Regions from separate parts of the Homo sapiens genome. Here region 2 is linked to region 1. Evidence: fine-mapped expression QTL. A gene starts in region 1. The other region holds a variant in brackets. All regions are shown on one strand. Distances are from middle to middle. Region 1 holds the start of CGAS (cyclic GMP-AMP synthase). Region 2 overlaps CGAS (cyclic GMP-AMP synthase).

Region 1 (5,000 bases):
CAGCCTGGTCAACATGGTGAAACCCCGTCTCTACTAAAAAGGTAAAAAAATTAGCTGGGTGTGGTGGCAGGCGCCTATAATCCCAGCTACTCAGGAGGTTGAGGCAGGAGAATCGCTTGAACCCAGGAGGCGGAGGTTACAGAGAGCCGAGATAGCACCATTGCACTCCAGCCTGGACAACAAAAGTGAAACTCCATCTCGAAAAAAAAAAAAAGATATTTGAAAGCCTGTATTGAGATACTCTAGAATCACAACAGCTGAAGCAGTATGAATGATTTAAAATGTAAATGCCAGGTCCGGTGCAGTGGCTCATGCCAGTAACAGCACTTTGGGAGGCTGAGGCGGGCAGATAGCTTGTTGGGGACCAGCCTGGGCAACATGGTGAAACCACATTTCTACAAAACCATACAAAAATTAGCTGGGCATGGTGGGGCACGCCTGTAGTCCCAGCTGCGCAAGAGGCTGAGTCACGAGAATCTCTTGAACCCGGGAGGCGGAGGGTGTGGTGAGCTGAGATTGTACCATTGCACTCCAGCCTGGGCAACAAGAGCAAAACTCCGTCTCAAAAATGAATAAAATAAAATAAAATAAAAAGAGAGAACTTTACACAACTTTTTTTCCCCCTGAGACAGAGTCATTTGCCCTGTCGCCCAGGATGGAGTGCAGTGGTCTGATCTCAGCTCATTACCACCTCCGCTTTCCCGATTCAAGCAATTCTCCCGTCTCAGCCTCCCCAGTAGCTGGGTTTACAAGCATGGCCCACCACACCTGGCTAATTTTTGTATTTTTAGTAGAGATGGGTTTTCACCATGCTGGACAGGCTGGTCTTGAACTCCTGACCTCAAGTGATCCACCCACCTTCGCCTTCCAAAGTGCCGGGATTATAGGCGTGAGTCACCGCACCAGGCAGAAACTTTACACAACATTTTAAAGATTTTCTGTGCTTTTTAAAAAATGTCAAATAGAAGTATTTACTCCAATTGCAGTCAATCTTTGTTTCATTCCATCTTGTAAAAGTTGAATATTTTCTCTTTCTTATTTTTTTCTTTTTTCAAAGTATTTTTCATTTGTTATTAATTTTTTTCTTTTTAAAAATTATTATTTTATTTCTTATTGATTTTTAAAAAACCCTATTTAAATTTACATTGAAAAAGTTGGCCGGGCGCTGAGGCTCATGCCCGTAATCCCAACAGTTTGGGAGGCCGAGGCAGGTGGATCACGAGATAAGGAGTCCCAGACCAGCCTGGCCAATATGGTGAAACTCCTTTCTACTAAAAATACAAAAATTAGCCGGGCATGGCGGCGCACACCTGTAGTCCCAGCTACTTCGGAGGCTGAGGCAGGAGAATCGCTTGAATCCGGGAGGCAGAGGTTACAGTGAGCCGAGATCGTGCCACTGCACTCCAGCCTAGGGGACAGAATGAGACTCCATCTCAGGAAAAAAAAAAAAAAAAAGGGAAAAGTTTCTGGCCAGGCGCCGTGGCTCACGCCTGTAATCGCAGCACTTTGGGAGGCCGAGGCGGGTGGATCACTTGAGGTCAGCAGTTTGAGAGCAGCCTGGCCAACATAGCGAAACCCCGTCTCTACTAAAAATACGAAAAATTAGCCGGGCGTGGTGGCGGGCGTCTGTAATCCCAGCTACCCGGGAGGCTGAGGTAGGAGAATTGCTTGAACCCAGGAGGCAGAGGTTGCAGTGAGCCAAGATCGCACCATTGCACTTCGGCCTGGGTGACAAGAGCGAAATTCTGTCTCAAAAAAAAAAAAAAAAAAAAAGAAAGAAAGAAAGAAAAGAAAAAGAAAAAAAAGAAAAGAAAAAGTTTCTGTGGCAGGGCACAGTGGCTCATGCCTACAATCCCAACACTTTGGGAGGTTGAGGAGGGAGAATCGCTTGAGTCTAGGAGTTCGAGACCAGCCTGGGCAACATAGTGAGACCTCCCCATGTATACAAAAAAATTAAAAAGAAAAGAAAAAGCTGGGCATGGTGTCCGCACCTGTAGTAACAGCTACTCAGGATGCTGAGGTGGGAGGATCGCTTGAGCCCTGGTGGCTGAGGTTGCAGTGAGCCGAGATTGCGCCCCCCTAACTCAAACCAAAATTAAATTTAAAAAAACTTTCACTTGAAAGAGAAAAGTTTCTCTGTCAATGTTTTTGTTTTGTTTTGTTTTGTTTTGTGATGGACTCTTTTTCTGTTGCCCAGGCTGGAGTGCAGTGGCGCGATCTCGGCTCACTGCAACCTCTGCCTCCCGGGTTCAAGCAGTTCTCTGTCTCGGCCTCCCGAGTAGATGGGACTACAGGCGCCACCAAGCCCGGCTAATTTTTTGTATTTTTAGTAGAGACGGGGTTTCACCATGTTGGCCAGGAAGGTCTCGATGTCTTGGCCTCGTGATCCGCCCGCCTCGGCCTCCCAAACTGCTGAGATTACAGGCGTGAGCCACCACGCCTGGCCTCTTTTTCTTTTTTGAGACAGAGTCTCGCTCTGTCGCCCAGGCTGGAGTGAAGTGGCACGTCTCAGCTCACTGCAACCTCCGCCTCCCGGGTTCAAGTGATTCTCCAGCCTCAGCCTCCCGAGTAGCTGGGATTACAGGTGCCCGCCACCACGCCTAGCTAATATTTGTATTTTTTAGTAGAGACGGGGTTTCTTTCGCCTTGTTGGCCAGGCTGGTCTTGAACTCCTGACCTCAGGTGATCCGCCCACCTCGGTCTCCCAGATTGCTGGGATTACAGGCGTGAGTCAGTGTGCCCAGGCAACACACACACACACATATATTTAATTATAAGAAAGACCAGGTCTTGCTGGGTTGCCCAGGCTGGTCTCAAACTCCTGAGCTCAAGCGACCCGCCTGCCTCGGCCTCTCGGATGCTGAGGTTACAGGCGTGAGCCACCGCGCCCGGCCCTACCTCATCTTCTTAAGACAGGGGCACGGATTGCCTGGAGAGTTAGAAACTTCGAGACTTTTGTAGCCTCAGGAAAGGCCGCGGCCAGCCTCTTCGCGGCATGGGCGTGGCTCCCAGCGACTTCCCAGCCTGGGGTTCCCCTTCGGGTCGCAGACTCTTGTGTGCCCGCCAGTAGTGCTTGGTTTCCAACAGCTGCTGCTGGCTCTTCCTCTTGCGGCCTTTTCCTGAAACGGATTCTTCTTTCGGGGAACAGAAAGCGCCAGCCATGCAGCCTTGGCACGGAAAGGCCATGCAGAGAGCTTCCGAGGCCGGAGCCACTGCCCCCAAGGCTTCCGCACGGAATGCCAGGGGCGCCCCGATGGATCCCACCGAGTCTCCGGCTGCCCCCGAGGCCGCCCTGCCTAAGGCGGGAAAGTTCGGCCCCGCCAGGAAGTCGGGATCCCGGCAGAAAAAGAGCGCCCCGGACACCCAGGAGAGGCCGCCCGTCCGCGCAACTGGGGCCCGCGCCAAAAAGGCCCCTCAGCGCGCCCAGGACACGCAGCCGTCTGACGCCACCAGCGCCCCTGGGGCAGAGGGGCTGGAGCCTCCTGCGGCTCGGGAGCCGGCTCTTTCCAGGGCTGGTTCTTGCCGCCAGAGGGGCGCGCGCTGCTCCACGAAGCCAAGACCTCCGCCCGGGCCCTGGGACGTGCCCAGCCCCGGCCTGCCGGTCTCGGCCCCCATTCTCGTACGGAGGGATGCGGCGCCTGGGGCCTCGAAGCTCCGGGCGGTTTTGGAGAAGTTGAAGCTCAGCCGCGATGATATCTCCACGGCGGCGGGGATGGTGAAAGGGGTTGTGGACCACCTGCTGCTCAGACTGAAGTGCGACTCCGCGTTCAGAGGCGTCGGGCTGCTGAACACCGGGAGCTACTATGAGCACGTGAAGGTGAGCTGCTTGGCGCCCTCCCGCCGAGCCCCGCTGCTCGGCCTTCCGCAATCCGCAGTCCCTACCTTCCCCGGGTCGCGCCCCTCACTTCCCTTCGGAAGTAACTTAGACTTTTGCATGTTTTTCGGTAGCCTAGTCTAAGTAAAACGACAAACCGTTCGTTTATTCATCTACACATCCAACGATCAGACAACCAACCGGTACTGATTGCTGGCTAATTTCAAGACACTGCTCCCGGGGGAATTCAAATGTATGGGTTCATTCATGCAAGCCGACATGTATCGAGTTTCCGTAACAGGGCAGTGTTTGATGGTGTGGACCTGAGGTCCCGAGTCAGATATTGACTTGGATAATTTGAAGTGGTCTGTTAAAAATTCCACGTAGACTTTTTCCTATGAGGAAGACCTCTTACTCCATAGAAAAAAAGATCTTCAGTTTCTCTCCCCCTCTTCCTCCCTGCCCCCTCTCCTGCTATCCCGTCTGACCCCAATTTCTTTTTTTTCTTTTTTCTTTTCTTTTCTTTTTTTTTTTTTTTGAGGCGGAGTCTCGCTGCGTCCCCCAGGCTGGAGTGCAGTGGCGCTATCTCGGCTCACTGCAAGCTCCGCCTCCCGGGTTCACGCCATTCTCCTGCCTCAGCTTCCCGAGTAGCTGGGACTACAGGCGCCCGCCACCATGCCCGGCTAATTTTTTTTGTATTTTTAGTAGAGACGGTGTTTCACCGTGTTAGCCAGGATGGTCTCGATCTCCTGACCTCTTGATTCGCTCGTCTCGGCCTCTCAAAGTGCTGGGATTACAGGCGTGAGCTACCGCGCCCGGCCGTCTGTCCCCAGTTTCTTACACAGAAATCATGGGAAGCTTACAGTATAATGTTAAACAAACAAATAAGAATATCTCCTACAGATACTAAAACGCTTTCTAGATACACATTCCGTATAATTGCTTCGACGTGTGTATTACACAGCTCCATTTGCTTGTGGGTGATTGAGTCATTAATCATTCCTGTGTAAATTGAAAGTTTAGAAGCAGGTTCCTGACTGGAGCGTGTTTCTTGCCCAGCAAGAGATTTGTTTCTTTTTCTTTTTCTTTCTTTCTTTCTTTTTTTTTTTTTTGAGACGGAGTTTCGCTCTTGTTACCCAGGCTGGAGTGCAATGGCGCGATCTCAGCTCACCTCAACCTCCACCTC
Region 2 (5,520 bases), 27 kb after region 1:
CAGGATAACTTTTTTTTGTATTTTTGGTAGAGATGGGTTTCTCCATGTTGGTCAGGCTGGTCTCGAACTCCCGACCTCAGGTGACCCACCCTCCTCGGCCTCCCAAAGTACTGAGATTACAGGCGTGAGCCCCCATGCCCAGCCCCAGGATATTTTCATGAGGGAAACCACTTGAATATTGTTTAGATATGGATGCTTTGGGTAAAGTGCTTTTTTGTTTTTCTTTTTGAAATTAAGAAGAAACATGGCGGCTATCCTTCTCTCACATCGAAAAGGAAATTTTGAACAATCATGGAAAATCTAAAACGTGCTGTGAAAACAAAGAAGAGAAATGTTGCAGGTAACAGCCTTATTTTGTTAAATGACAGATTATCTATGGTATGCTTAATTATTTGTTGACTCCACACCTCAGACCTGAAGAGCTGAGCTGGGTTGGGTCTGGGGGGCAGGGCAGGATTGGGTTGAGCTGGGGAGAGTGTGAGTATGAAACCAGAGAAGCTAGATCCAAAGGGCCAAGGAAAGGGTGTTGTTAGAAGGCAAGGCCGGGGAATAGTAGTTCTGAACCCTGGATCAGATGAATGTGTTTTTGTATAGATGTATCAGTAGGACAGAGTGAGAGGGTATGAGCACTAGCCATGACAATTCGATGGGTCTTAGTATTCTGCTTGTTTAAAAGTAATGGATATTAATGCCATATAATTGGAGGAGGCCAAAAGGTCGCTCTTATTAGATACTGGGCTTGCTTTGGGATAGTTGGGTTGTGTTGACGGCTAGGGATTGATTGGCCAAACTGAAAACAACACTAAGTGAGTAATTTTTTTTTTTGAGACAGACTTTCACTCTGTCACCCAGACTGGAGTGCAGTGGCACAATTACGGCTCACCACAGCCTCGATCTCCTGGGCTCAAGCAATCATCCTACCTCAGCCCCCCAAGTAGCTGAGATTACAGGTGCATGCCACCATGCTCGGCTAATTTAAAAAAAAATTTTGTAGAGGGCCTGTTGGCTCACACCTGTAATCCCAGCCTAGCAACATGGTGAGACCCCACCTCCATAAAAAATTTAAAAATTAGCCAGGCATGGTGACTGGTGCCTGTGGTCCCAGCTACTTGGAAGGCTGAGGTAGGAGAATGGCTCGAGCCCAGAAAATCAAGGCTGCAGTGAGCCATGATCGTGCCACTGCACTGCAACCTGGGTGACATAGTGACACCCTGTCTCAAAAAAAATTTTTTTTATTGGTAGAGATGGTGGTCTCCCTTTGTTGCCCAGGCAGGCTGGTCACCAACTCCTGGGTTCAAGTAAACTTCCCGCCTTGGCCTCCCAAAGTCTTGGAAGTACGGGGATGAGACACTGCACCCCACCATTTTTTTTTGTGATGGCATACACACCATAAAGAACTAAGATTGAAAAGGAATTGTTCATTTGAGTTTCTAAAGTTGGCCAGTATTGGCCAGGCATGGTGGCTCAAGGCCTGCAATCCCAGCACTTTGGGAGGCCAGGGCAGGTGGATCACCTGAGGTCAGGAATTCGAGACCAGCCTGGCCTACGTGGCGAAACCCCGTCTCTACTAAAAATACAAAAATTAGCTGGGCGCAGTGGCACGTGCCTGTAATCCCCGCTACTCAGGAGGCTGAGGCAAGAGAATCACCTGAACCCGGGAGACAGAGGTTGCAATAAGCTGAGATCATGCCACTGCACTCCAGCCTGGGCAACAGAGCAAGACTCCATCTTAAATAAATAAATAAATAAATAAATAAATAAATAAATAAAGTAAGTTGGCCAGTATAAAGATCACAAAAGTTAAAAAGTCAAAACAAAAATGCCCAACATGCAGGCACAGAGGTTCTTTAAGATCTCATATGCAGGCTTTGAAGTAAGCATTAAGAAAACTATATTGTTGGCCAGGCACAGTGGCTCACGCCTGTAATCCCAGCACTTTGGGAGGCCGAGGCAGGTAGATCACCTGAGGTCAGGAGTTCGAGACCAGCCTGGCCAACGTTATGAAACCCCGTCTCTACAAAAATGCAAAAATTAGCCGGGCGAGGTGGCATGCACCTGTAATCCCAGCTACTTAGGAGGTTGAGGCAGGAGAATCGCTTGAACCCAGTAGGCAGAGGTTGCGGTGAGCTGAGATCACACCACTGCACTCCAGCCTGGGCAACAGAGCGAGACTCCATCTCAAAAAAAAAGGAAAAAGAAAAAAAAAAAGAAATATTGTTGATAAGGCTAAATAGTTTCATAAATAGTACATTTTGTCAACTACTAAATAACTAGATGAGATGGCAGATTATCTATGGTACTCTTAATAATGTAAATAATTCTGTGATACAATCAGTGGATTTTAGAAAAGAAAAAATTTATATTAAATTTGCAGTTCAATAAAGTAAAATAATTTTATAACAAAACAAGATTTTGGATCGCTTGAGGGGGGTGAGGGGAGGGTCAGAGGTTGCAGTGAGCCGAGATTGTATCACTGCATCCCAGCCTGGGTGACAGAGTGAGACCCTGTCTCAAAAAAAAAAAAAATAGTATAAATATCTGTTAGCTTTATACAGTTGAAGAAATTCATAGAATATATTTAAGCTAAGAATGGGAAAGAGAGGGAAAAAATGTGTTTTTGAAACTTCAAACCATATATTTGAAAACATAATCAGATTTTAGTGTGACTGTTGTATTTATTTTATTTTATTTTATTTTAT[C/TTTATC]ATTTCATTTCATTTCATTTATTTCATTTTATTTTATTATTTTATTTTATTTTATTTTATTTTATTTTGAGATGGAGTCTCACTTGTTGCCCAGGCTGGAGTGCAGTGGCATGATCTTGGCTCACTGCAACCTCTGCCTCCTGGGTTCAAGTGATTCTCCTGCCTCAGCCTCCCGAGTAGCTGGGATTATAGGTGCACGCCACCACACCTGGCTAATTTTTGTATTTTTAGTAGAGATGGGGTTTCAGCATACTGGCCAGGCTGATCTCGAACTCTTGACCTCGTGATCCGCCTGCCTAGGCCTCCCAAAGTGCTGGGATTACAGGCATGAGCCACCGCGCCCGGCTTTTTTGTTTTTGTTTTTGTTTTCTGTGTGTGACAGAGTTTCGTTCTTGTTGCCCAGGCTGGAGTGCAATGACGCGATCTTGGCTCACTGCAACCTCCGCCTCCTGGCTTCAAGCGATTCTCGTGCCTCAGCCTGCAGAGTAGCTGGGATTACAGGCGTGCGCCACCACGCCCAGCTAATTTTGTATTTTTAGTAGAGACGGGGTTTCACCATATTAGTCAGGCTGGACTCAAACTCTTGATCTTAGGTGATCCCCCTGCCTCAGCCTCCCAAAGTGCTGGGATTACAGGCGTTGTGTCACCACGCCCGGCCTATATTTATGTTATTATATATCTTTATTGTTTATATTTTTGCTATGAGATGCCTAAAATCCTTTGTTGAATGTAAATAAGTAAAAATAAGTGTTTTCCTTTTTTATTCAACAGGAAAGATTGTTTAAAACTAATGAAATACCTTTTAGAACAGCTGAAAGAAAGGTTTAAAGACAAAAAACATCTGGATAAATTCTCTTCTTATCATGTGAAAACTGCCTTCTTTCACGTATGTACCCAGAACCCTCAAGACAGTCAGTGGGACCGCAAAGACCTGGGCCTCTGCTTTGATAACTGCGTGACATACTTTCTTCAGTGCCTCAGGACAGAAAAACTTGAGAATTATTTTATTCCTGAATTCAATCTATTCTCTAGCAACTTAATTGACAAAAGAAGTAAGGAATTTCTGACAAAGCAAATTGAATATGAAAGAAACAATGAGTTTCCAGTTTTTGATGAATTTTGAGATTGTATTTTTAGAAAGATCTAAGAACTAGAGTCACCCTAAATCCTGGAGAATACAAGAAAAATTTGAAAAGGGGCCAGACGCTGTGGCTCACACCTGTAATCCCAGCTCTTTGGAGGCCGAGGCAGGCGGATCACTTGAGGTCAGGAGTTTGAGACCAGCCTGACCAACATGGTGAAACTCCATCTCTACTAAAAATATAAAAATTAGCCGGGCATGGTGATGCATGCCTGTAATCCCAGCTACTCGGGAGGCTTAGACATGAGAATCACTTGAACCCAGGAGGTGGAGGTTGCAGTGAGTCAAGATGGCACCACTGCACTCCATCCTGGGTGACAGAGCAAGACTTCCTCTCAAAAAATAAATAAATAAATAAGAAAAATAAATTAGGAAATTATTAAAATAATTTTTTAGAAAAGCAACAAAATAACAAAAATTAGTGACTGTAATAATTGGAATGTTTGAAATTTGTCACAGCAATAATTGACTAAAATGAATGTAAATAATTATTCAGTTTTCAGTTTGTTGTAATAAACTCTAATCAGTATAAAGGATTGACTATCCTAGGAAAAAGATTAGTCAAGGAATAAGAAGCAAAAGTAGTATTTGAAATCTAAAAACATTACCATGTTTGCTTTATCATGCAGGCAAATAAATAAATAAATGACATTTTTAGGTTGGAATAAAAAAAGATAAAGTACATATTGCCTTAATTAAATTCATCAAGTTCTTACTGAAAAACAGCTCTCCGCCGTGCCTGGCCAGGAAATACATAATTTTTTTTTTTTTTTTTTAGATGGAGTCTCGCTCTGTCGCCCAGGCTGGAGTCCAGTGGCATGATCTTGGCTCACTGCAAGCTCTGCTTCCTGGGTTCATGCCATTCTCCTGCCTCAGCCTTCCGAGTAGCTGGGACTACAGGTGCCCGCCACCACATCCGGCTAATTTTTTGTATTTTTAGTAAAGATGGGGTTTCACCATGTTAGCCAGGATGGTCTCGATCTCCTTACCTTGTGATCCGCCCGCCTTGGCCTCCCAAAGTGCTGGGATTACAGGTGTGAGCCACCACGCCTGGCTGAAATACATAATCTTAAAAGAAAACATAAGATACTTTATTTTAATATACGTGACTAAATGTAAAACCTAACTTATTTTCTGTTATCTATTTATTTTTACTTTCAGTAACACTTTTTTTATTTTAGGTAGCATTCAGCCTAGAGGCAACTGCTGTTTGTTAAATATTTCCTGTTCATATATTTTGCACATTTTCTTATGGGTTAGTTTTCTTCTCATTGTTTTGGGAAGTTCTTAATATATTTGGGGTATTTATCTTTCATTCGTTGTCTGTGTAACAAATAACTTCTGCCATATGGGTTGTCTGCACATTTTTTGGTGTCTTTTAGTAAACAAGGTTTTTTTGTTTTGTATTGTTTTGTTTATTGTAAAGATTTTTAAATTTTAATGGAGTTGATTTCTTTTCTCATTCAAGCTTTTGAGAATAAATTGGAGTTGAATTTTTTATGGTTTTTGCTTTATACATCTTGTTTAACAGCCTACTATGTTTGAACATACTAAGAGAAACATTAGACATTTGAAGAGTTTTGGGGACAATTAATGATAAATAAACCACTATGCAAATAAAATAATCTAAGCAATTTTTTTTTTTTTTGGGACAGTCTCACTCTGTCGCCCAGGCTGGAG

Evidence for each region.
Region 2: its variant is fine-mapped to the expression of CGAS in whole blood (INTERVAL, PIP above 0.99).

The regions. Positions count from the first base shown.
Region 1 is chr6:73,450,342-73,455,341 of GRCh38, reverse strand. It overlaps CGAS (cyclic GMP-AMP synthase), which reads left to right and starts at 3,045. Exons shown (of 5, transcript NM_138441.3): 1 at 3,045-3,817. The coding sequence starts at 3,161. RefSeq lists an enhancer at 2,764-3,243 and a silencer at 3,414-3,623.
Region 2 is chr6:73,423,529-73,429,048 of GRCh38, reverse strand. It overlaps CGAS (cyclic GMP-AMP synthase), which reads left to right. Exons shown (of 5, transcript NM_138441.3): 4 at 238-340; 5 at 3,471-5,338. The coding sequence ends at 3,822. Among named protein-coding and RNA genes, the nearest start is that of CGAS, 26 kb to the left of the region's middle. The variant C/TTTATC (reference allele first, on the strand shown) is at 2,700.